7 linked regions of the Homo sapiens genome follow. The protein of the gene in region 3 purifies or fractionates together with the protein of the main gene of each other region. This does not show direct contact. Each region holds a gene or a part of one and is shown on either strand. Other genes may lie near its edges. The genes, in order: TTYH3, NUP98, UXS1, SAAL1, IPO7, NUP160 and NOP9.

The links.
Region 1: the proteins of UXS1 (region 3) and TTYH3 purify together in Homo sapiens (affinity purification with mass spectrometry; 2 studies listed by BioGRID and IntAct, with this or other methods). This does not show direct contact.
Region 2: the proteins of UXS1 (region 3) and NUP98 purify together in Homo sapiens (affinity purification with mass spectrometry; 2 studies listed by BioGRID and IntAct, with this or other methods). This does not show direct contact.
Region 4: the proteins of UXS1 (region 3) and SAAL1 purify together in Homo sapiens (co-immunoprecipitation; 3 studies listed by BioGRID and IntAct, with this or other methods). This does not show direct contact.
Region 5: the proteins of UXS1 (region 3) and IPO7 purify together in Homo sapiens (affinity purification with mass spectrometry; 2 studies listed by BioGRID and IntAct, with this or other methods). This does not show direct contact.
Region 6: the proteins of UXS1 (region 3) and NUP160 purify together in Homo sapiens (affinity purification with mass spectrometry; 2 studies listed by BioGRID and IntAct, with this or other methods). This does not show direct contact.
Region 7: the proteins of UXS1 (region 3) and NOP9 purify together in Homo sapiens (co-immunoprecipitation; 3 studies listed by BioGRID and IntAct, with this or other methods). This does not show direct contact.

What each region holds. Positions count from the first base shown.
Region 1 is NC_000007.14:2,648,986-2,652,485, reverse strand, and holds part of TTYH3 (protein tweety homolog 3), read right to left. Parts: intron 2,920-3,500; coding exon 2,847-2,919; intron 2,574-2,846; coding exon 2,498-2,573; intron 300-2,497; coding exon 244-299; intron 1-243. UniProt on the Homo sapiens protein: Calcium-independent, swelling-dependent volume-regulated anion channel (VRAC-swell) which plays a pivotal role in the process of regulatory volume decrease (RVD) in the brain through the efflux of anions like chloride and organic osmolytes like glutamate.
Region 2 is NC_000011.10:3,675,555-3,679,054, forward strand, and holds part of NUP98 (nuclear pore complex protein Nup98-Nup96 isoform 1 precursor), read right to left. Parts: intron 1,067-3,500; coding exon 955-1,066; intron 823-954; coding exon 605-822; 3' UTR 1-604. UniProt on the Homo sapiens protein: Plays a role in the nuclear pore complex (NPC) assembly and/or maintenance. NUP98 and NUP96 are involved in the bidirectional transport across the NPC. May anchor NUP153 and TPR to the NPC.
Region 3 is NC_000002.12:106,145,802-106,149,301, forward strand, and holds part of UXS1 (UDP-glucuronic acid decarboxylase 1), read right to left. Parts: intron 1-3,500. UniProt on the Homo sapiens protein: Catalyzes the NAD-dependent decarboxylation of UDP-glucuronic acid to UDP-xylose. Necessary for the biosynthesis of the core tetrasaccharide in glycosaminoglycan biosynthesis.
Region 4 is NC_000011.10:18,096,083-18,099,582, forward strand, and holds part of SAAL1 (protein SAAL1), read right to left. Parts: intron 773-3,500; coding exon 689-772; intron 1-688. UniProt on the Homo sapiens protein: Plays a role in promoting the proliferation of synovial fibroblasts in response to pro-inflammatory stimuli.
Region 5 is NC_000011.10:9,446,140-9,448,627, reverse strand, and holds the end of IPO7 (importin-7), read right to left. Parts: 3' UTR 501-2,488; downstream 1-500. UniProt on the Homo sapiens protein: Functions in nuclear protein import, either by acting as autonomous nuclear transport receptor or as an adapter-like protein in association with the importin-beta subunit KPNB1.
Region 6 is NC_000011.10:47,813,851-47,817,350, reverse strand, and holds part of NUP160 (nuclear pore complex protein Nup160), read left to right. Parts: intron 1-1,321; coding exon 1,322-1,405; intron 1,406-1,701; coding exon 1,702-1,872; intron 1,873-3,500. UniProt on the Homo sapiens protein: Functions as a component of the nuclear pore complex (NPC). Involved in poly(A)+ RNA transport.
Region 7 is NC_000014.9:24,302,850-24,306,236, reverse strand, and holds part of NOP9 (nucleolar protein 9), read right to left. Parts: intron 3,256-3,387; coding exon of another isoform or gene 3,247-3,255; exon of another isoform or gene 3,170-3,246; intron 3,164-3,169; coding exon 3,023-3,163; intron 2,506-3,022; coding exon 2,380-2,505; intron 2,197-2,379; coding exon 1,960-2,196; intron 1,745-1,959; coding exon 1,639-1,744; intron 1,300-1,638; coding exon 1,142-1,299; 3' UTR 605-1,141; coding exon of another isoform or gene 472-604; 3' UTR 291-471; coding exon of another isoform or gene 100-290; 3' UTR 1-99. Other genes in the region: lipid transferase CIDEB, read left to right, coding at 100-290, 472-604.

The sequences.
Region 1 (3,500 bases), on a different chromosome or scaffold from region 3:
TCCCAGCGATGCGGGTGCATTGAGCAGGTCCCCCCGAAAGGCTCTCAGCCAGGTCACCAGGTCACCGGCATGGTAACCCCAGGGGCTGTTGGTGACATCCACACAGCCTTTGTCCAGCTCCCTCCCCCAGTTCCCCAGTCCTGCAGGCTGAGGAGCCAGGCGCCAGGCCTGCTGGGCCCCTCCACACACAGCAATGTGCTTCAGACTCTCCTGAAGCCCAGTCCCGGCCTCCCAGGCTCTCACCTGCTGGAAGGGGTTGGCGGCGCGGGGCGAGCAGGCCAGGTAGTACTGCAGGATGTCTGCGGAGAGACATCAGGGAAGGCTGAGCTGCAACAGCTGTCCCTGTGAGACTGCGTGCACGTCTGCCTGTGTCTGCACGCATATCTTCAGGGCATCTGCGTGCATGTTTACATGTGTGCATGTGTGTCTGTGTGCACCTGTTTACACATGTGCATGTGTCTGCATGTTTACTTACACGTGCATGTGTCTCTGTGCACGTTTCGTGTGCACGTGTGCCGGTGTGCATGTGTCTGTGTGTTTATATGTGTGCATGTCTGTGTGTACATGTCTTCGCATGTGTGTCTGCATGCATTTACACACATGCCTATGTCTGTGTGTGTGGCAGTGGGGTCTGGGCTCCCATCAAGCCAGAGTCCCCACACACTGCCCCTTGCCTGGGTTCCACCTTCCGAACTCTTTACAAGTTCAGTTCTTCCAATTATAAAAGAACATTAAAAAAAAACATTTTAAAAGTTCAAAAAATGATGAAAGTATTTAACAACATAGGAGAGCACCAGGCATCACTGTGGCCGCCTGTGCAGTGAAGCCAGCGTGGCTGGCCTTGCTGCCTTCTGGGAGGGGCTGTCTGGCCCGCAGGCTGGAGCTCACACTTACGTGTGTACATGTACACGTGTAGGGGGCGCTGCTCATACTTGATGAGATCCCCCCAAAGGCCGCCGGCTACAGTAGGGACCTGGAGGGACCAGGATGATAGCACCGGGGCCAAGGACAGTGGTGGGTAGCACTGAGCGGTCACCAGCCCTCCCCGCCCCTAGCAGAGCGGGCCCACCCCTCCACCCTCGCCCCCGAGGACAAGGTCAGTGGGCGGCAGATGACTTTTCCTCCAGGAGGCTCTTCAGGCTTTGGTGGAAGTGGTTCCTTCAACAAAGGCAGGTAAAAAACCAGCCCACAAGCCAATCCTGTGGCCTCCAGGGACAAAGGGTGGCAGGATGGTCACCTTCAAGGTCATTCAGTAACCCTCACCCCCACAGGGACAGGCCTTCTATTTCCTATTGGGGAACACACAATAATTCCACAAGGGGGGCCTGAGAAGCTTAACACACTGACGGCACCCCGATCTCCAGATTCCCACGTCCACCTGCCTCTGTGCCGTCCGACACACATCGCAAACCTCCCGAGGGGGCCGAAACTCCCGATGCCCCAGCTCCCTGCCCCCCACCTCCAGACCTGCTCCCCCACCCACAGTACAGCTTATGGTCCCGCAGCACAGAGCTGCTGAAACCAGGGACGCCAACTCCTGCTCCGTCCCTCTCGCTCCCTACATCCAACTGACCGGGAAGTCCTGCCAGCTCCGCCCTCAAAGCCCATCCCTGTCCACCTTTTGCTCCATTTATTCAAGCCCCTGCTGTCTCCTGCTTGAGGTATCCTCCTCACCCACTCTTGTAACCCTTGAGGCCTGAGGAAGCTTTGAAAGGGACCTTCAATCATGGGTCAAATCTCTCCCCTGCCTCCCTCCCTCCAATGGCCTCCCCCTGGAATAAAGCGAAGCTTGCCACAGAGACTCAGCCCCACTGGCCTCCCACCCTCCATTCTCCCCTCGGGTCTGCCTCCTGCCTCGGGGCTCTTAGAAGAGATGCAGCGTCCTTCTGGCTCTACTTTTTTTTTTTGAGATGGAGTTTCACTCTTGTTGCCCAGGCTGGAATGCAGTGGTGCGATCTCGGCTCATTGCAACCTCCACCTCCTGGGTTCAGGCAATTCTCGTGCCTCAGTCTCCGGAGTAGCTGGGATTACAGGCACCCACGACCACACCCAGCTCATTTGTGTATTTTTAGTAGAGACAGGGTTTTGCTATGTTGGCCAGACTGCTCTTGAACTCCTGACCTCAGGTGATCCACCCGCCTCGGCCTCCCAAAGTGCTAGGATTACAGGTGTGAGCCACTGCACCCAGACCTCTGGCTGTACTTTAATGCCACCCATTTGGCCTCCCCTGGGCATCTACTCGAAGCAGCCCTGGGTCACCTGCCGCTCCCCCTGCCACGCGGGCACCCGCCACCCCACATAGTTCCTGTCATTCTTTGCAGAGCCTCCCACTTGGGAAAGGTGGTCCTGTTTGCTCACTAGCATCTTGGCCTGGGACCTGTCTCCCTGAGACCATGGACCCACAGGGCAGGGGTGTCTCGGCCTCAGCTACCCCACTCTTTTGGCTCAGCCCAACCCTGGGGAACCCGCTGGGACACGGCCGTGGACACAGACTCACCCCCACTCAGCACCGAGTACTCCTCCACCATTTTGGTCACGTAGGCGTCAGGGTCCACACAGAAGTCGCTGGAGCCCTGAGGTGGGCGTGGGCAAGCAAGAGGGGTTGACCAAGCTGGGCCTAAAGGGAAGCTCTCGGGGGTAGAACCCGTCCCCTGGAGTCTGCTTTCAACTCAGGAGGGTGGACTGTGAATCTGGGGTTACAGGTGGACTGTGCCCATGGTGGGTCCCCACCGCTCTCGGGACCCAGTGCCCGGGAAGATGGGAGGGGAGAGGAGTGTGGCTTCCCCTCGTCCCTCCCCCAGTGCCCAGGTCCAGCAGCCGGGGACCTCACCCCCTCTGCCACTCACCACGGACACAGCCAGCTCCAAGCCCAGCGCGCCCCAGCTGATGACCAGGGCCAGGACTCCCAGCAGGCAGACCCTGGGGCAGAGACAGCCAGTCAGCAGCCCCCAGGCCAGGGTGGGGGCCGTGCCACCTGCTGGGCTGCAGGCCAGAAGGCAGGTCCCAGTGCACATCAGGGGTCAGCCCACACATGGGCTGGGGCTCTTCCTGTGGCCTGGCCTCAGCCAGAGCTGCCCACAGCCCAGGGCCCAGATGGATCCCTCTCCTAGGTGGGGTGGGGCTCAGAGATCTGAGCTGGAAGCAGGACTGGAGGGCCACGTGGCTCTTGGGGCCCCGCCCCTCCTGTCCCCCAGGTCCCTCTCCTGAACAGGCAACAGTGTCCACTTTCACGTGGGTCCCCGCATCCCGCCGCCCACGTAGCAGCCCAAGGGGCCTGATAACGTCAGCTAGATCAAGCCCTCCTGTGCTGAACCCTCGCTCAGCAACTGGGGACTCAGAGCTCTTGCTACGGCACTGGCCTCTCCCTCATCTGAGGCCTCACCTCACCCACATCTGGCTCCCTTTGATCCAGATACACAGGCCTCCTGTGCATACCCCACTGCAGGTGCCCCCACCACGAGTCCCCCATATCCCAGTTCAGATCCCCAAAACACACCCCA
Region 2 (3,500 bases), on a different chromosome or scaffold from region 3:
AGCCCTGAAGATCAATCCCTCCGTGACAGGCATTCACTTCTGCCCTAAGTGTGTCAGAAAGATCCCATTTTGTTTCCTAACTCAGGCCAACCCTCCTTTGCCTCCAAAATTCAGTGTTAACTAACCAATTACTTAAGAGACGGATCCCTCTTCCTTCTGTGGATAGTTCATCTGTTAAGGATCCATTATCACCTGTCTCACTCCTCCTAAGGAGTCCTAGTATAAAAGGGCCAGGGTAGGAGTAGGGAAGCTGGTTGGCATGGAGGGTCACAAGATCCAGAATGGCTAGGGATGGAAAAAGAATACCCTGGTTCTTTGGGGGATTCTGCCAAAGGAGCTTTATTGACCATTTTTTTAAAGGAAAAACACTGAATGATCTTGAGGATGGTAAACTGTCTCCTCTTCTGGGTTCCAGAAGCCCTTATGCTACGTTCAGTATTAAGAAAAGCCCTGAACAAGTGGAGGATGCTGCTTCTGGCAGCAGGGAGGGAGGGTAGATGCCACAGCCAACCCAGAGAATGGCAAACAGTGCCAATCCAAACAAGGCAGGGAACCTCTGTGTGGTGTGAATGGGCATGTGACTGTGATGCAAAGTGCCTGGGGCTCACAGGCTCCCAACAGCCAGTTCTCGCAGATAGGACTGGGTAAGGCTGCGCAGTTCGTCCATGGCATAGTCCTCAGGCATGGGAAGCCGGCCAATGTGGGGAGCCAAGAGGCGCAAAGGGACTCGCTGAGGGTCTGGTGTTGAGTCGGAGGTTCTATCAGGAGGATGATGCAGACTCAGCACCACGCGCAGCAGGTTGGCTACACGTTTGGCCATGTCTAGAGAGAAAAACTAGAGTCAAGCACTGAGCATGGGGTCTGGAGAAGGGTGGTAGGCACTGAGGGTGGGGTGTAATAATCATAAAAACAGGAAGCAAGAAGGCAGAAAGAGTGAGGAGGTTAGAGGCTTACCTGACTGAGCCAGGCGATCTTTAGCACTGTAACACTGAATCTGCTCTATCCGACTGCACAGTGAAGTCACTTTGATGTGTAACTGCTCCAGGTCATTACCTGAGCAATCCACCTACAAAGAAGCAGAGAAGCCAATTAATCCAAGGGGAGTTCCTATCACTCCAATCCCACCTATAGACTCTACACAAAACCTTGAAACAACAGTGAGGTGAGGGAGGGGAAAATCCAAGATGATGACACAGGGCCAAGCCACCACCATCTAGTGGAGGACAAGGCACTAATTATGCAGTAATAGCCAAGAGGAAGGTAACACAGTTACCTAGCCTTGGACTAGGAAAAGTCTTGAGATCCCGAACTATACAGCAAGCTTTAATAACACAGCACCAAAAATCAAGATAAATTGGGTTCAGAGAGATGGTATGACTTCTAAAGAGCACACAAGGAAGTAAAAAATGCAGCCAGAACCAACATTTAATTTAGGTCCCCTGACTCCAAGTTTATAGCCTTTTCTAAAACACCAAAAAAGCTGTGTGCAGGGGGCAGGAGGATCAAGAGCAAGACAGGTTATTTGCTCTCATGAAACTGATAGAAAATAAATAAGAAAACACAAAACAGTAATAAATCCTGAAAAATCACAAGCCATGTAGATAATTTAAACAGGTGGATGTGGCAGAGAGAAACTGGATAGCTACTTGAGACTGGAGGACCAAGAGAGGCTTCTTTAAGGAGGTCATATTTAAATTGAGACCTGAATAACAAGGAGAGAGCTCAGCTTTCCAGGCAAAGAGAAGACAGCTAAAACCCCCAAAGGTGGGAATTCAAAGGAGATTTACATGGTGACATGTAGGGTAAGGAGAAGAAGCAGAACAAGATAATACTAGAGAGTTTTTATGTAACATAGGTTTTTTTTTTTTTTTTTTGGGAGAAGGGGGGTCTCGTTATGTTGCTCAGGCTGGTCTCAAGCAATCCTCCTGCCTCAGCCTCCCAAAGTACTAGGATTACAGTCATGCACCACCACATCCAGCTATGTGCTGGCACATTGATAGTACCCTTTGCTTAATCCCTATACTTATCAAGCTATAGTAATTGCTGCTTTACTTGTATGTATCTCCCCCACAAAATCATTATTTTGGTAAGGGCAGAACACATACTGTTTACCTTTATATTCCCCAAACCCACTACAGTGCTTGGCATACAGTGAGTTCTCCATAATAGGTTGTGTGAATGAATTACTCAATATTCAATGAGAAAGTGGTTTCTTCAAGTGATTATTTAGAAATGATGTTCTTGATTCATACTAAAAGTACAGCAAACATTGAATTATGTCTATTATGTGCCAGGCACTGTACTAGGAGTTGGAACTTTGATGAGGATAATAATAGATAACAATTATTAAGCATTTAGTAGAGGCCGAGGTCAGGAGTTTGAGACCAGCCTGGCCAACATGGTGAAACCCCGTCTCTACTAAAATACACACACACACACACAAAGCTGGGTGTGGTGGCACACGCCTGTAATCCCAGCTACTGGGGAGGCTGAGGCAGGAGAATTGTTTGAAGCTGGGAGATGCAGTGAGCTGAGATTGTGCCACTGCCCTCCAGCCTGGGTGACAGAGTAAAACTCTGCCTAAAAAAAAAAAAAAAAAGGCATTTAGTACATGAAAGGTACTATGTAAAACACTTCATGTAGATTTTGTTTAATCTTTGTGAAAATCTGTCAATATGAACTATAATCTGTACTACTGTCTACCCCACCCACCTTTTTCTTTCAGACGAGAGAGGTAGTTAACTTGCTCAAGATTACATAGCCAGTGAATTTGGAAGCCACAAATTGAATCTATAAGTCTGCTTCCAGAACTTGAGCTGTTAACCTCTACACTCTATTGCCTGTAACCGTAAAAGACCTTCCCAAAAGGGGCTTATAGCAACCTGAAAATATGAATAAGTAACTACAATATGGTCTGACAGGTGCACTAGTAGAATAATGTACTAAGTATCTTGGTAGTAAGAAAGTGCAATTAATTATCTCTGGGGAAAAGCAGAGAGAAGTAGGGGTAACAGCAACCTAGATCTTAAAAGGATGAGTTTAAGTGTGCTAGGTAGTGTGGAACATAATATGGTTTGTTAGAAACACCAGAAGTAATTTAGTGTGAGTACAGCAGGCTAGCAAGGCTGGAACGTGGAATAAGAGTGGTAGGAGTAAGGCAGGAAAGGTAAAAGCCTCTAAAAGGACTTGAATCCTATATTTATTATAATGAGTTTGGTTTTTGCACCATAAGCAAGCAGTGGAGACTCATTTTACGACTACAAAGACTGACCTTAAGGCTGCGTGCAGGCGTGCGGTAAGCTCATGCCTGTAATCCCAGCAATTTGGGAGGCCAAGGTGGGCCGATCACTTGAGGCCAGGAATTCAAGACCAGCCTGGCCAATGTGGTGAAACACTATCTCTACTAAAAATACAAAAGTTAGCTGCGTGTGGTGGCACACACCCTATACTCCCAGCTACTTGGGAGGCTGGGGCATGAGACTCACTTAAGACTGGGAGGC
Region 3 (3,500 bases):
CCAAGAAAAAAAAACTTAATATTTAAGTTAGATTCAAAAACTGCAGGAAAAACAAATATCTTTTAAATTGTTTATGAGAACAAATTAATAAGCAATACATGCTGTTTGTAGACTAAAGCCCTAAACGCCTAAGTCCACTGTGTGGTTAATTTCTGAATGGTGATGTGAACCCAGTGTGGTATACACTCCCAGCCACAGAGCACGATGAGGCAGCTGTGAGGGGTCTTGACGGTAACTCAGTAATAACAAAACCTAGACCCCTGCAAAGGTGAAAAGTCAACTGCGCTTGAAAAATACTTTTAAGTTGAACACAGGTATTTTATTCAAATTAAATGGTGTAACTGGAGGAGGATAAAGGGAATTTCATCTGGGGGAAGGTTATAGGCGGTGGGAGTGAAAAGAATAGGCTCAGAAAACAGACGTGCCATGCACAACTCAATTCTCTAGCCTGCTGTATCCTGTTCTCCACTCTGCCTTCTCTTCACCAAAATTCTCATTCATTTCACCCTTCTGTTTCAAACGGAAAGTATTAATAGGAAGACAGCAATCCTTTCTACCTAAAATAAAAGGTATACAAACTCCTAGGTCTATGGTTTTAAAACATGTAATTCTCCATGAAACTCCTGTTTAAAATAAATGAAATCTCACACACGATGAAGTATTCACCACGGTGAGAGAGTAAAGCCACCTGGATTTGAGTGGAGTGGTAGCTCATGCCTGTAATCCCAGCACTTTGGGAGGCCGAGACAGGTGGATCACTTGAGATCAGGAGTTCAAGACCAGTCGGGCCAACATGGTGAAACCCTGTCTCTACTAAAAATACAAAAAATTAGCTGGGCGTGGTGGCACACTCCTGTAATCCCAGCTAGTTGGGAGGCTAAGGCAGAAGACTCACTTGAACCCAGGAGGCGGAAGTTGCAGTGGATCGTACCACTGCACTCCAGCCTGGGTGACAGAGAAGACTCCATCTCAAAAAAAAAAAAAAAAAAAAAAAAGAAGCCATCTGGATGAAAAAGATCAAAAATGGCAGAGGAGAAGTAAGGGGAGGCTATAAACTAAAAATGAAATTTGGGTTGGGTGCAGTGGCTCATGCCTGTACCCAACACTTTGGGAAGCCAAGGTGGCTGGATCATTTGACGCCAGGCGTTCAAGACTAGCCTGCGCAGCATGGTGAAACCCCGTCTCTACTAAAAATACAAAAATTAGCTACACGCCTGTAATCCCAGCTACTATGGTGGCTGAAGCACAAGAATCACTTGAACCTAGGAGGTGGAGGTTACAGTGAGTTGAGATCACACCACTGCACTCCAGCCTGGGTGACAGAGCGAGACTCTGTCTCATAAATAAATAAATATCCTAAGTCCCCCAACTGAGTGGGCCCCCTCTTGGCCAAACGGAACCCCAGAGAAACCTGAAAAGCTGAGTTCCCAGCAGTGATGTGAAAGGAGATTGGACATGCCTCACTATACTTTCTCTTTTGGAATTTAGACACAACTGACCAACGTTAATATTAAAACAGAGATCATAAACAGGACCTAGGGTCGTGCCAGACAGGAGCTAAGTCACATCCCTCCAAGTCATTCTGACCCAGTGTATTGGTGAACAGACTTCCTTGTCATAACTTAGATTCCTTTCTGCTGACTCCAAAGTTTTACACAAAGATTTACTCCTTTAACCAATTACAAAGTAAAAAATCTCTAAAGCCAGGGAGGTCAAGGCTGCAGTGAGTGGCAATTGTGCCACTGCACTCCAGCCTGTGTGACAGAGAGAGACCCTGTCTCAAAATAAATAAAATAAAATACAGAATCTCTTAACCCGCCTATACCTGTGAGCCCCCACTTCAAAATAGCCTGTCTTTTTGGGCCAAACCAATGTAAAAGCCCTATATATTGATTTATACCTCCTTGTAACTTCTGCCTCTCTAAAATGTATAAAACTAAACTAATCCGCCTGCCTCGGGCACACTTACTCAAGGCTTCTTGGTTTTGTGTTTCCTGGGGCTGCAGTTACTCATACTGGATCATAATACACCTCTAAAATATTTTAGAGTTTGGTTTTTCAGTTAACAAGGCCAACCTCAAGAATAACCATCCCTTAACCACCACATAGATATTACATATGCTCTGATGAAATGCAAATCAAATGGTTAAGACAGGATGGGTGAGACCAGGCATCCTCATGCTCGATAGCTTTCATTTGGCTTTACCAACAGCACCATTTTCCAAATCCCCTTTGCCTTCAAGATAAGAAACTGACACCCAGAGAAGTTACGTCTTTGACTAAAATCCTCAGAGATCACTAGCTGGGACACACTAAAGCTACAGTCTTTCTAATTACACGCTCTCTACTGCCTGTCAATTTGTCTGGTTCGTGTTTCATCTTAAGAGCTCCCACATTCTACTGCTATACCTGAACAATGACTATGAAAAACGATTTTCCAGAAAAATAATTGAAATTCAAAGTTGACTCACCACTAGAGCTTAACTCACGGGATGAGATTTCATTTTATCTTCACGTTATTGCATTTTTTCCAAGTTTTCCATGATTTTTACATTTAAAAACTTGCAACTTTTAAAAAGAAATGTAACCCCTTTTAACATAACTGTTTCTCTATATGCAAATATTTCTGAAAACAAAATGTTCAGTGGCACTCTAACATTATCTCTGCACCCAAAATACCTGGCAGACAGTTCTGAGATATCAGAGATGCAGCGTATTAAATTACACATGATCATCTCCAACATCTCACTAGTCTTAGTACTGACGTAAAATTGTTGGAAGCACCTTAGCTTGACTAAAATGCACTGGAATTTTTTTTTCTGAAGTAATTTCCTTCTACCTAAAATACTTAAGATTTATATAATATAGCTGGATGGTTATGCAATTTTTTATCCTAATCAATGTTAGCCCATTAGGCAAGTGTTTCAAATAGAAACAAATTTGGTGAAAGCTTAGCACTTACAAAGCTCTATCAGGAACACTAATCACCAAACCCAAGGATATTCTTTGAATAACAAGGAGCTAATACCCAAAAGAGAACAGGAGAAAAGAAGTAAGACCTCTTACACTGAGATGGATTAGAACTTACACGGCTTTGCATGGCTTTCCAGTATAGGGGTTTGTCTCAGTGTGCTTTCTTGCTCGCTCTTGTGGGTGCCAATAGGCAGCTAAAGTGGTCTAGTTCAAGGTCAGCAGTCAAACTCATGATGCTTAGCAAATTAGCAAAAAATCAAAAAATGTATTTCAAAGCAAGTCTCCTCTTTCTGTTGAAGCTGTCCTAAGGCTTACCAATTTACTGAAAAGGCTTTAAGTTATAGCAACAATATACCAGACTCACATGCCAAATGCCTCAGAAATGTGCTTAACCTATGAGATGGCAGATGAGGGGAAAAAAAAAACTAAGTCTGTTTGCTGTGGTGATGTGTAAAGCAAAATAAATTCTATAATACTCAGCATCGACAGGAAGATCATTCCATGTGCACATAATAAAATTCATGGCA
Region 4 (3,500 bases), on a different chromosome or scaffold from region 3:
TTGTCAGTAAAAAAGAGAAATCAACTGAAAAATGGGAGGCCCAGGCTCTGTTCCTTGTTCTGATACATACTAGCAGCATAACAGTGGTTATGCCTAACTCGTCTCCACAGCTGGTAAATGAAAGTGCTAATTTCCCTGGTCCGGCCTGAATCTAAAATTCTATGATTTTCATAATTTTAAATTATTAAATTATTAATAATTTAATATTTTAAATTATTACAGGCATTTAGCTCACGCTTATAATCCCAGCACTTTGGGAGGCCAAGGTGGGAGGATCACTTGAGGCCAGGAGTTCAAGACCAGCCTGGGCAACATAAGGAGACCTTTGTCTCCACAAAATAAAAATAAAAATTAGCTGGGTGTGGTGGCTTACACCTATACTCCCAGTTACTTGGGAGGCTGAGGTGGGAGGGTCCCTTGAGCCCAGGAGGTCAAGACTGCAGTGAGCCGTGATCACGCCACTGCACTCCAAGCCCTGGAGACATAGTGAGACCCTGTCTCAAAAATAAAATAAAATAAATTTAAATAGCAAATTACCTAGGACCTGGCAATGTTCAATTAACATCTACAGGCTGATTTGTTGATTTATGGTCAGTAAGAAAATCAAAGTGAGAAAAATAAAAGACTATCCAGCACTATCTGTTCTTATTGCTTCAAAGAAGAAGGCTTTAGAAATGTACATACTTACTCTTAATCGAGGACACTTGGACTTGGCCAGTACTCCCATGAATATATCAGGAGCATTAAATTCTTGGAGAAATAAAGCCACGTCCTGAAAAGAAAAATGATTATTAACTTGGATGTTGAATATTCCTCCCTAAACCCTAAAGCTCAGGCAACCATAAAATTCTATATTAAAATTAGAATTTTACGCCAGGCGCAGTGGCTGACACCTGTAATCCTAGCACATTGGGAGGCCAAGGCTGGCAGATTGCCTGAGCTCAGGAGTTCAAGACCAGCTGGGCAACACGGTGAAACCCTGTCTCTACTAAAAATACAAAAAAATTAGCCGGGCATGGCGGCATGCACCTGTAGTCCCAGCTACTCAGGAGGCTGAGGCAGGCGAATCGCTAGAACCCGGGAGGCAGAGGTTGCAGTGAGCTGAGATCACGCCACTGCACTCCAGCCTGGGTGACAGAGCGAGACTCTGTCTCCAAAAAAAATAAAAAAATAAAATAAAATTAGAATTTTAGACACAAGAAAAAAAAAACACAGGCTTAGGAACTGTGTCAACAGACAAAAGTGATGTTAGAGAGTCTTTATGGTAACTAGTCCCAGACAATGGAACAATTTCATAAACAAATCTAAACTACCTACAATACTCCAGAGGATTATCCCACTCTTTTCTGCCCGAATCTATTTACCTTAATAATTTTTCTGCCCACTAGGAATTCTCATTAAACACATTCAAACACATTTGGTGATTACCTATCAGGTATTAAACTAGAAGCGGGGGACAAGGGAAAAAAGCAACACGCTGGGCGCAGTGGTTCACACCTGTAATCCTAACACTTTGGGAGGCTGGTTAGAAGGCCGAGGTGGGTGGATTACTTGAGCCCAGCTTGGGCAAACATAGTGAAAACCCATATCCACAAAAAATACGAAAATTAGCCAGGTGTGGTGGCACATGCCTGCAGTCCCAGCTACTTGGGAGGTTGAGGTGGGAGGATCACTTGAGCCTGGGGAGCTCAAGGTTGCAGTGAGCCATGACTTTGCCACTGTACTCCAGCCTGGGCAACACAGCGAGAAAAAAAGGAAAAAAAAAAAAAAGGTAAAACTTGGCTGGGCGAGGTGGCTCACGCCTGTAATCCTAACACTTTGGGAGGCCAGGACAGGCGGATCACTTGAGCCCAGGAGTTCGAGACCAGCCTAGGCAAACATAGTGAAACGCCATCTCTACAAACAATACAAAAATTAGCTGGGCATGGTGGTGTACCATCTGTAGTCCCACCTACTCAGGAGGCTGAGGTGGAAGGATTGCTTGAACCCGTGAGGCAGAGGGTGCAGTGAGCTGAGATCTCGCCACTGCACTCTAGCCTGGGCGACAGAGTGAGACTTTGTCTCAAACAAAAACAAAATTCCTTCTTGTCCTCCAAGAGCTTAAAACACGGTAGGGGAAAGAAGTCAAGAACTGCTATTGGGTCCTGTCCAAAACCAGAATTTGTGTTTTCAAAATCATCAATAGAATAAAAATTCTGATCACAATGTAACTGTGGCAGCCTCATAACTTCTTCCTACAGAGTCTGCCACAGTGCCTAAAGGGGCGTAACACACAGGTGACATGTGAGTGGACATGTGGCCCCAAATGAGCCAAATCTCACCTAGGAATGTAAGACACAAAAGCTAAGTCAGTTTGCTTGGGGACCTGCAATGTAAAATATATAAATAAAATTAAGTCTCTGGCTGTCCACTGCTTCAGATTTTCACTAAATGTGAGGTGTGTATTTGAGAAGCCTTAACTTAAAATATAAGCTGCATGGCTTATGTGAAAATTAAGGGCCCTGGAACATCTCAAAGAGACAGGCAATTATTCTCCACAGCAAGTGAAACCAGTAACCTGCCAGACAACTGACTGAGAGAGACACACTCTACTTACTAAAGGACCATGGTCAGAGAAAATAGTATTTTCAAAGATACACTCTAAACTGAAAGTCATAATGGCAGATTCTCTTCACTGTAAGTGATCAAGCTGTCCTGTGGGCAATTCTTTGCCACATGCAGAAATTTTTAAATTTAATGGTAATTCCTGGAGTAGCACAAGGGTGGCCTAACAATATCAACACCAACAGTAATAAAATTAACATTCATTGAACAAGTATTAAATGCCAGGCACAGTGAAGTGGCTTGCATGCTATCTCATTTAATTCTCAAAACAACTCTATCAACTAGTTATCATTGTTAGCCCCATTACACTCATAAGCAAACTGAAGTTTAAAAAGTGTAGCAACCTGCCCAAGATTATACAGTCTCAGCAGAGCAAAGCTAGGATTTGAACCCATGAGTCTGATTTGAGCCTATGGTCTTGTTTTTTAAAAGAGATGGGGGTCTTGCTATCCTGTCCATACTGGAGCAGTGGCTATTCACAGATTCACAGGCATTATCATAGCTCACTGCAGCCTCCAACTACTGGGCTCAAGTGATCCTCCTGCCTCAGCCTCCCAAATAGCTGGGAATACAGGCAAGTACCCAGCGAGACTATGTTCTTAACCAGCACAACATGCTACCTCTCAGGTATTCATCTATTCATTCATTACTCCCCAAATATTTTCTGAAAAACCTAATAGGCACTGTTTTAGGTTCTGGGGATACATCAGTGAACAAGCTAAATAAGGGCTCAGTCCCATGGAATTTTCATTCTAAAGAAATGAACAAACAATAAATATAAAACAACTAAACTACACAATTTCTAAATGCTACAAAGAAAATAAGATATGTGCTAGAAACCAAGATAAAGCGGGCTACTTTAGACATGACATTGAAAAGAAGGCATTTCAGAAGGG
Region 5 (2,488 bases), on a different chromosome or scaffold from region 3:
GTCCTTAAAGGAAAGGGATATATCTGTCCCCATTGTTTGTTTTATGCAGTCATAATACTACATACAAATCTATTCAGTGGTAATACTACATACAAAGGATGAAGGGCCTAGAACAGTATTGGATCACTTCAGTTAGCTGAGTTACAGCCTGGGTCTAGAAGACCTTTGGAGAAGCATACTGCTTCTGCTAATGCTAGTTTTTGGATTGCCAGGTCAACTTAAAATGTTAACTGTTTATGTTAAAGAATCTATTATCCTAGCCTTCTCTAATTTGCAGGTCTGATTTAGGTAACTCCCCCAATTGAGAGATGCCAGTACTATCTCCAAGAGCACTTTCCAGGTAACCTTTGTTTACCATGAGCCAAAGTGTGAAGTGGCTATTGCAAGAATGGCCAACTCACCAAGGATAAAAGCTAGAATTCAGTAGGCACTGATAAATGGTCACAGAAAATCTTTACCAAAATTTAAATTACAAAGAACAGAACTGACAGTTTTATAACTGATGTTTTAAATTTAAGTCATTTATTTTACAAACAGAGACTACCTATTATACTTAAGACATTGTGTTAGATCTTTGCCAAAGACATGGTTTAGTCATACTAATGTAATCCATTTTTTAACTTTCCATATTAATTTAATTTTTAATTCATTTTTCTTTATGCTTGCTTCAGGGGCTACATCTGGGACTGAATAGCAGCATATGGCCCAAGGGCTGTGGTTTTGCCACTCATGCTCTATACTCTAGTCTCTTCCAGAGTTGAGTATAGCAGTCACTATCTTAATACAGTGTGTCACTATTTTATTACCTGCAGAGAAACAGATTAACTTCCTTTATTTAATACTGATAAATAGAAAGGCTTTTTCAAGAAAAAAAAAGAAAGCTTACATTTACAAAAGTGATTTATGCTAATATGTGCCATTAACAAAGACAAATACTGAAATCCACACAAAATCAGAATTAACTTCTACAACTAAAAAAAAATTACAGGGTAATAAAACTGTAGGAAAAGCTGTATGTAAAAAGAAAAAAAGACAAGTCCCTATGTAGCTAATTACAAGAGAATATTGTAAATACATTCAAAAAGTTTTCCAAAAATCCTGCAGCCTCATCTAGAAACTGATACATGTTAAGATTCTTGATCTATACCAAATTATAATGTTAAAGGAAATCATGAAAACTGAGGTATATATTTGATGCATTAGAAACTATCATTTGAACACTATTTAAATAGTTTAATTATAAGGTCTAATTTCAAGTTAAAGTCTGTAAACGGAGATTAGTTTGGATTATATGACACAGGAGACAATAAAACATGTTCTCAAAGACATGCCAATACATTTTCTTGAAACAAAACCTCAGCAAATGAGAATTTTCATACTGTGCATGGGAATAACTAAAACCTTTATTAGATATGATTTTCCATTAACAATAATGTGAAAATTAGAATTATGAATTCAAAAAGCAGTGAAGTCTGAAAATTTAAAAAGTAGACTAGGTATTAGGGGATTAAAGGTAAAGGAAGACGAGAATGTTTCTTTAATACTATTCATTATTTCCCCTCTGTACACAATGTTGCATATATACAACTACTTCATTTTTATTGACTTTATATAATAGTGAAATCCCTTTAAGCAACCTAGGGTATACAGTTGGTGTCCAACTTTCAGGGGATTTTCGGGGGGGAGTAGAAACACTTGATTAACAGTTTTCACCCACACACGTTAGACAATTTTTTTCTTTTTTTGCCAAGATTTTAGTAGTAAATTCATAAATATAGGAAATACTTTCACTCCTTCAGTGTTAAAATAGAAAACCAAACAGTGCCAACAGTAGTGGCTTAATTATTGGTATACAAGAAAAACACAACAACAATGGGTTTTCTTAATTACGCATTTTAAATATCAATATGTGCATTTGTTTTTACAGTTATAAATTTTTTTCTCACCTGTTTTAGACAACAGCTTGTAATAGTTTTGAATCCATTAAGATGTTGCTTTCAATTTGAAATATTTTGTGTATACATGTATATAAAAAATAACCCAATGTATGACTCATCTGACCGATGTTTAAGATCAATAACGGCTTATTTTTCAACATGCAGTTAGGAAGAGAGGGAAGCAAGCCAACCTCTCTACAGTATCTTTTTGCTGGCTTGTTTTTGTAGTGGTATCAATAGTGGTTTTTGGAGGGAACCATGTGCCTTCAGCCTATCTAGTCAAGATCAGATACCACGATCAACAAGAGCGGTAGAAGAGATGGGGAAAGGGGAGTGGGTAAGTGTTAAATATCAATTTTGTAAAGTGTGCATTTTGTACTCCTTCTAGGCACAGGATTAAAAACAGGCCAATGAGGAAAAATTTGTTATAATTAGGAAAAAACTGCAATCAAATCAAGACATAATAGCCGAATTAAGTTCTTTTAATAGATTGCATATATAGATGTTTAGCCATACTCTTAGATCAACTCTTTAAGAGCAGAACTTTATAT
Region 6 (3,500 bases), on a different chromosome or scaffold from region 3:
AAAAAAAAGTTTTTGGCTTCAAATTCATTGTATAAGAGAAGCCCAGTGCTTTACAAAAGGATTCTTTGGCCAACGGTAGTGACTCACACCTGTAATCCCAAAATTTTGGGAGGCTGAAGAGGGAAGATCACTTGAGCCCAGGAGTTTGAGAGCAGCCTGGGCAACAGAGGGAGACCCCATCTCTAAAAAAAATAATAATAATAGAAAAATAGCCAGGTGTGGTGGCATGCACCTGTGGTCCCAGCTACTCAGGAGCCCTAGGTTGGAGGACTGCTTTAGCCCAGGAGGTAAAGGGTATGGTGAGCCTTGATCATGCCACTGCATTCCAGCCTGGGAAACAGAGTGACACCCTATCTTAAAAAAAAAAAAAAAAACTGAAAGGATTTTTTAAGGTTACAAAGGCTTCTGGCTGGGTGCAGTGGCTCACACCTGTAATCTCAGCACTTTGGGAGGCCAAGGGGGTGGATTGCTTGAGCTCAGGAGTTCAAGACCAGCCTGGGTAACATGGCAAGATTCCCATCTCTATTAAAACAACAACAAAAAGTTACATAGACTTTTTTTTTTTTTTTCCCTTTGAGGCAGGGTCTCGCTCTGTTGCCCAGGCTGGAGTGCGGTGGCACGATCTTGGCTCACTGCAACCTCTGCCTCCTGGGTTCAAGTGATTCTCCTGCCTCAGCCTCCCAAGTAGCTGGGACTACAGACGCATGCCACCACACCCGGCTAATTTTTGTAGTTTTTAGTAGAGACAAGGTTTTGCCATATTGGCCAAGCTTGTCTCGAACTCCTGGCCTCAAATGATCCACCCGCCTCAGCCTCCCAAAGTGCTGGGATTATAGGCATGAGCCACCACACCCAGCTTGCATAGGCTTCTTTAAATTACTACTTAGCTTCATGGATGGATTTAAAATACAATAACTCATATAATTGAAAATTATATTAGAATATTTTAGACTGACCTCCCACATAAAACAGAAATGCCTTCTGAGGCTTTTGTGATAGTTATTCAGCCTTTAATTGTCTCTACCTCCACTGACCACTTTGTCACTACCTCTTGTGGGAGTTATTATTCCCAAACTGTGTCATTGAAAAGGAAGCCTCTCTTCTATAAATCAACCCTTCAAGTATTTTAAGAATCTTTCCAGGTCACCTTTCTCCAGACTAAATACACCCAGTTTCTTAACTTTCTCTTGGGTGATGTGTGTTCCAGGTATGCCAAATCTCTATTATATAGTTTTATATTGCCTCTATGTCTTCTAAACTGAAACGTTTTCCATTCAGTTTTGGCTATTATATAGAAGTCTAAAATGTCTTTTAATGTTAGATTTTCTGCCGAGGAACTGAGAGGAATTTGGATCTTTCCTGGAGTGAACTGAAGAAAGAAGTTACTTTAGCTGTTGAAAATGAGGTGAGGCTTGGGTAGAGAAAGAATAAGAATTCCTTCCATCTTGATATAGGGCAGATTGGTACTGACCGAGGAATTACTGGAATTCTTCACTTGACCTTGTTTGTTGGAACATATAAATGTTTAAACCTTTTAACTAGAGAATCAGATACACATTTGCATAGTCTATGGCCTTTAATACGTAAGGAATATTCATTTGGCTGTAGCTTAGTATAATGATATTGGACAATTATGTTTTTTGTGGACAAAGATCCTGAATGGCATCAAAAGTTTAATTTCTTTCATTTCTTCTTTGCCAGCTTCAAGGAAGTGTAACAGAGTATGAATTCTCCCAGGAGGAGTTTCGAAATTTACAACAAGAATTCTGGTGCAAGTTCTATGCCTGTTGTCTTCAGTATCAAGAAGCCCTCTCTCACCCTCTTGCCCTACATTTGAATCCACACACAAACATGGTGTGCCTGCTGAAAAAAGTAAGTGAGCTAAAGCATAGAGAAGACCTTCTTGAGACAGTTCAGTGGCTGTTATAACAAAATGCCTTCAGAAAACAAAAAGTTCAGTGGCTCTTGCCGAATGTTAGTCTGGTGAATGTTGCGGTTAGCATTTAGGACTTTGCATTTGTATTTTTTCCCCTAAAATTGTGATTCATTCATTTAAATAGTTTTCTGTGTTATTCTCTATACTTTTTTTGTATTTTATTGTATTTATTTCTTTTTCTTTTTTTCTCTTTTTTTGAGTTGGAGTCTTGCTCTGTCACCCAGGCTGGAGTGCAGTGGTGTGATCTCAGCTCACTGCAACCTCCGCCTCTGGGATTCAAGCAATTCTCCTGAGTACCTGGGACTACAGGTGTACACCATCACACCCGGCTAATTTTTGTATTTTTAGTAGAGGTGGGGTTTCATCATATTGGTCAGGTGGGTCTTGAACTCCTGTCCTTAGGTGATTCACCCGCCTCAGCCTCCCAAAGTGTTGGGATTACAGGCGTGGGCCACCACACCCGGCCTATTTACTTTTTATATTGAAGTAATTTCCAACTTAAGGTAAGAGTTACAAGAATAGCACAAAGAATTCCTGTATACCCTTCATCTGGATTCATCATTTGTTAACTTCCATATGCTTTTCTTCTTTCTCTAAACAGTTTTTCCTGAACTACTGAGAAGTTAGTTGTAGATATCATGCTCCTTTATCCTTAAATATCCTTAAATATTTCAGCATGTATCTAAGAACACAGATATTAAATAACCACAGCCCAATTTAAAAATCAGGTTATTTGATATTGACATAATATTATACAGCTTATATTCAAATTTTGCCAAATATAACATATATATATATATAGTTTATATTCAGATTTTGCCAATTGTGCCCATAATTTTTTTTCCTGATCCAGGATCCAATCTTTTTTTTTTTTTTGAGACAGTCTTGCTCTGTCGCCCAGGCTAGAGTCCAGTGGTGCAATCTCGGCTCACTGCAACCTCCGCCTACTGAGTTCAAGCGATTCTCCTGCCTATCCTCCAGAGTAGCTGGGATTATAGGCACGCGCCACCACACCTGGCTAGTTTTGTATTTTTAATAGAGACGGAGTTTCGCCATGTTGTGACCAGGCTGGTCTCAAATTCCTGGGCTCAGGTGATCCGCCCACCTTGGCCTCCCAAAGTCCAGGATCCAATCTAATATATGTATTTAGTTATTGTGTCTCTTTAGCTTAACCTCAAACTGTTATCAGCGTTTCTTTGTCTTTCATGAGAATGATGTTATTTGAAGACTATGCTTGTTTCTTTTTTTTGTTTGTTTGTTTGTTTGTTTGTTTGAGGCAGGGTCTTGCTGTGTCACCCAGGCTGCAGTACAGTGGCACTCTTTTTTTTTTTTTTTTTTTTTTTTGAGACAGAGTCTCGCTCTGTCACCCAGGCTGGAGTGCAGTGGCACGATCTCAACACACTGCAACCTCTGCCTCCTGGGTTTATGCCATTCTCCTGCCTCAGCCTCACCAGTAGCTGGGACTACAGGCGCCCGCCACCACACCTGGCTAATTTTTTGTATTTTTAGTAGAGACGGGGTTTCACCGTGTTAGCCAGGATGGTCTCGATCCCCTGACCTCGTG
Region 7 (3,387 bases), on a different chromosome or scaffold from region 3:
AGAAAGTCCAAGCGAGGGAGGGTCTGACCCAGTGCTGATGGAGATTAGTGGTGGGTGTCTGGTATGAGGATCTACTGCACTGACAAGGGTGTCCTACAGAGTGGAGTGCTGTCATATGGCCTGGGACGGGAGAGGCCCAAGCACAGCAAGGACATCGCCCGATTCACCTTTGACGTGTACAAGCAAAACCCTCGAGACCTCTTTGGCAGCCTGAATGTCAAAGCCACATTCTACGGGCTCTACTCTATGAGTTGTGACTTTCAAGGACTTGGCCCAAAGAAAGTACTCAGGTCAGAAATCAACATGTCATACTGCCCCATCCCCTACAGTTGGATAGTCCCCATAATTCGTCCTCTTGCACCCACCTACCCCTAGTTAGCTCTTGCTTGTGGAAAGTCCTCATCTCCCAGCTTGATGGCTTCCTCCCAAGTTTTCCAAATCATCTGATTTCCTCTTGTCTCTGCCATTCAGGGAGCTCCTTCGTTGGACCTCCACACTGCTGCAAGGCCTGGGCCATATGTTGCTGGGAATTTCCTCCACCCTTCGTCATGCAGTGGAGGGGGCTGAGCAGTGGCAGCAGAAGGGCCGCCTCCATTCCTACTAAGGGGCTCTGAGCTTCTGCCCCCAGAATCATTCCAACCGACCCACTGCAAAGACTATGACAGCATCAAATTTCAGGACCTGCAGACAGTACAGGCTAGATAACCCACCCAATTTCCCCACTGTCCTCTGATCCCCTCGTGACAGAACCTTTCAGCATAACGCCTCACATCCCAAGTCTATACCCTTACCTGAAGAATGCTGTTCTTTCCTAGCCACCTTTCTGGCCTCCCACTTGCCCTGAAAGGCCAAGATCAAGATGTCCCCCAGGCATCTTGATCCCAGCCTGACTGCTGCTACATCTAATCCCCTACCAATGCCTCCTGTCCCTAAACTCCCCAGCATACTGATGACAGCCCTCTCTGACTTTACCTTGAGATCTGTCTTCATACCCTTCCCCTCAAACTAACAAAAACATTTCCAATAAAAATATCAAATATTTACCACTAAGACTTCTGACTCCAATTTAAACCAGGAAAGGGATGGGGTGGATACCCCATTTTGCCCTCCCCCATCAACACCCAGTCCCAGATCCAAAGCCTCAGTCTTCAAGTATGGAGTTCAATGCCCGCCTCCGCTTGGCCACCGCACCCTGCTGCTGTTCCCAAGCCTCTCGCCGCTTTAGGAAGGTAGTCAAGGCCACATTTCGAGCCACATGGTGGCCGAAAGGGTCTCTTATCAGCTCCTGGTTCTGCTCCCCTGCAAAGGGAACCACTCATGTTTAGTACTACCATGCTCAAAGACAGACTCTACTTGACGTAAAGATCCCTCCATTTCCCCCAGACCCTGGGACTGCCACTGGGATAAAGTGAACACTTCACTTTCCAAAGAACAGAAGTCAGAGGGCAGGGTGAGGGCAGAGGACTACACAATCAGTCAGCGGGAGGGAAGGGGAAAGCAGACTGCTAAGAACCCATGAGCAAGACCACCCTTTGGAACTAAAGACTGTTGAATTTCAGTAGACTTCCCAGCTACCCAGTGATCTGGAGTAAGAGAGGGGAGAGTCTGGAAACATCAAAGAGAGGGGCTGGTACTCACCAAGCTCAGCAGCAATTTCCTTCCGGGCCCTCAAGGCTGCTCCACTCCAGATGGCATCTAGCACACGGCTGCCATGGCGACTACAGGCCAGAGCCACATATTGTCCCTGTATGGAGACAAGCAAAGTAGGTCTCCCTAGCAAAATCCACAAAAGTATTTTGGAGGCTTGTGGAGAGTGAATTTTCTGAAGAGTTTAAGGGCTGAATTAAAATAGTCTAGGAATTACATAGCCTTTTTGAGTCTGAAGGTACAGTCCAGGGAAAGCTCATATTCTCTAAATGGATGATGGTGGGGAATCAAGGCAAAAGCCAGAAATCTAACCTTTAGGTTCTGCAGCACACGGCGGCGCAGCTTGCGCGTCACAGAGGGGCTGGTCAGGATGGCATCGAGCACATGAGAGCCAGCGGGACTTTGGGCAAGGGACAGAAGCTGTGGTCCCGTCAAGGCACCCAGACTTCGAAGTACAAGACCAGGAGTGGAGAAGTGCAGCAGATGCTGGAGCAGTAGAGACCCAAGGACTGTCACATCCCCCAAGGCTCTGGCTGCGGCCATTGCCACCTGGCAGCGCAGAGATAAGAAATTAGGAGGCACCAACAAGCCAGGTGGATGAGCCCATCCCCAGAACACTGCCACCTCCACCTGGATGAAGTCACCACTCTCACCTCAGAAGTCAGACGCTTGCTAAACCCTGGGAGGCCTGACTCCCAATTAGTCACTGGCTTGGCCTCTCCCCTACCTCACCTGGTGCTCTGCAGGCACTGCCCCCTCCTCCTCCGTCAGTCCATAGTACACCTCATAAGCCATCAAAGTGGCAAAGAGAGGCACACAGGCCACTTGCCGGGATGAGGGCTCTGCACAGTGGAATGCCTAAAGGAGAAGACAGAATATGATGAACCTGAGAACTTCTCCGTCCCTTACCTCAACTTTAAGGGAACACCTTCAGGAAAGGAAAGAAGGCCCAACTCCACAAGAATGTTAGCTCCATGAAAGCAGATGTCATGCCTTGCTGTATCCCCAGCCTCTATCACATACAGGGGTTAATAAATGTTTATCCCTTAAATAAACTTCTCTCTTAGTTCTGGGAGACAATTTTTGTTCCAGGACTGTGAAATAACATTTGGCCTCAGCCGGGCACGGTGAGCTGAGATTGCGCCACTGCACTCCAGCCTGGGCAACAAGAGCAAAACTCCGTCTCAAAAAAAAAAAAAAAAATTAGCTGGGTATGGTGGCGGGCACCTATAGGCCTCATTTTCCCCCATTCCTGTGAACTCCTTGGGCATTAGACTTCCTGAGTCCAGAGGTACAAAAACTTAAGATTAGATAAGTCCTAAAAGGTAGAAGTTGAACTGAGGGCATAAACAGATTGTGGGTAATATCCACTCACCTCCAACAAGAGCTGTAGGACCTTGGCTTGGTAGGCCCCAACTCTGCGACAGGCCCCCACCAGGGCAATGACTACCCCTGGGTGGCCCTGGGCCAATACAGCTTCCAAGACAGGGCTCAGCTCCTCAAACACAGGGGACAGCTGATGGGAAACATGGAATGTAACTCTGGCATTCTGGTAATGGCGGACCACATTATTCAGAGAAATCTTCCCAACGAAAACAACTAAAAATGCTAGATAAAACATAAAAAGCATTGCCAGTATCAGGACTTTTGTTTGGCTAGATAAGGCCCAGGATAAGGGGGCAGTCTTAGAGGTGCCACCTCACAGGAAGGAACTTTAAGTGGCTCTTCCCTATGTGTAAG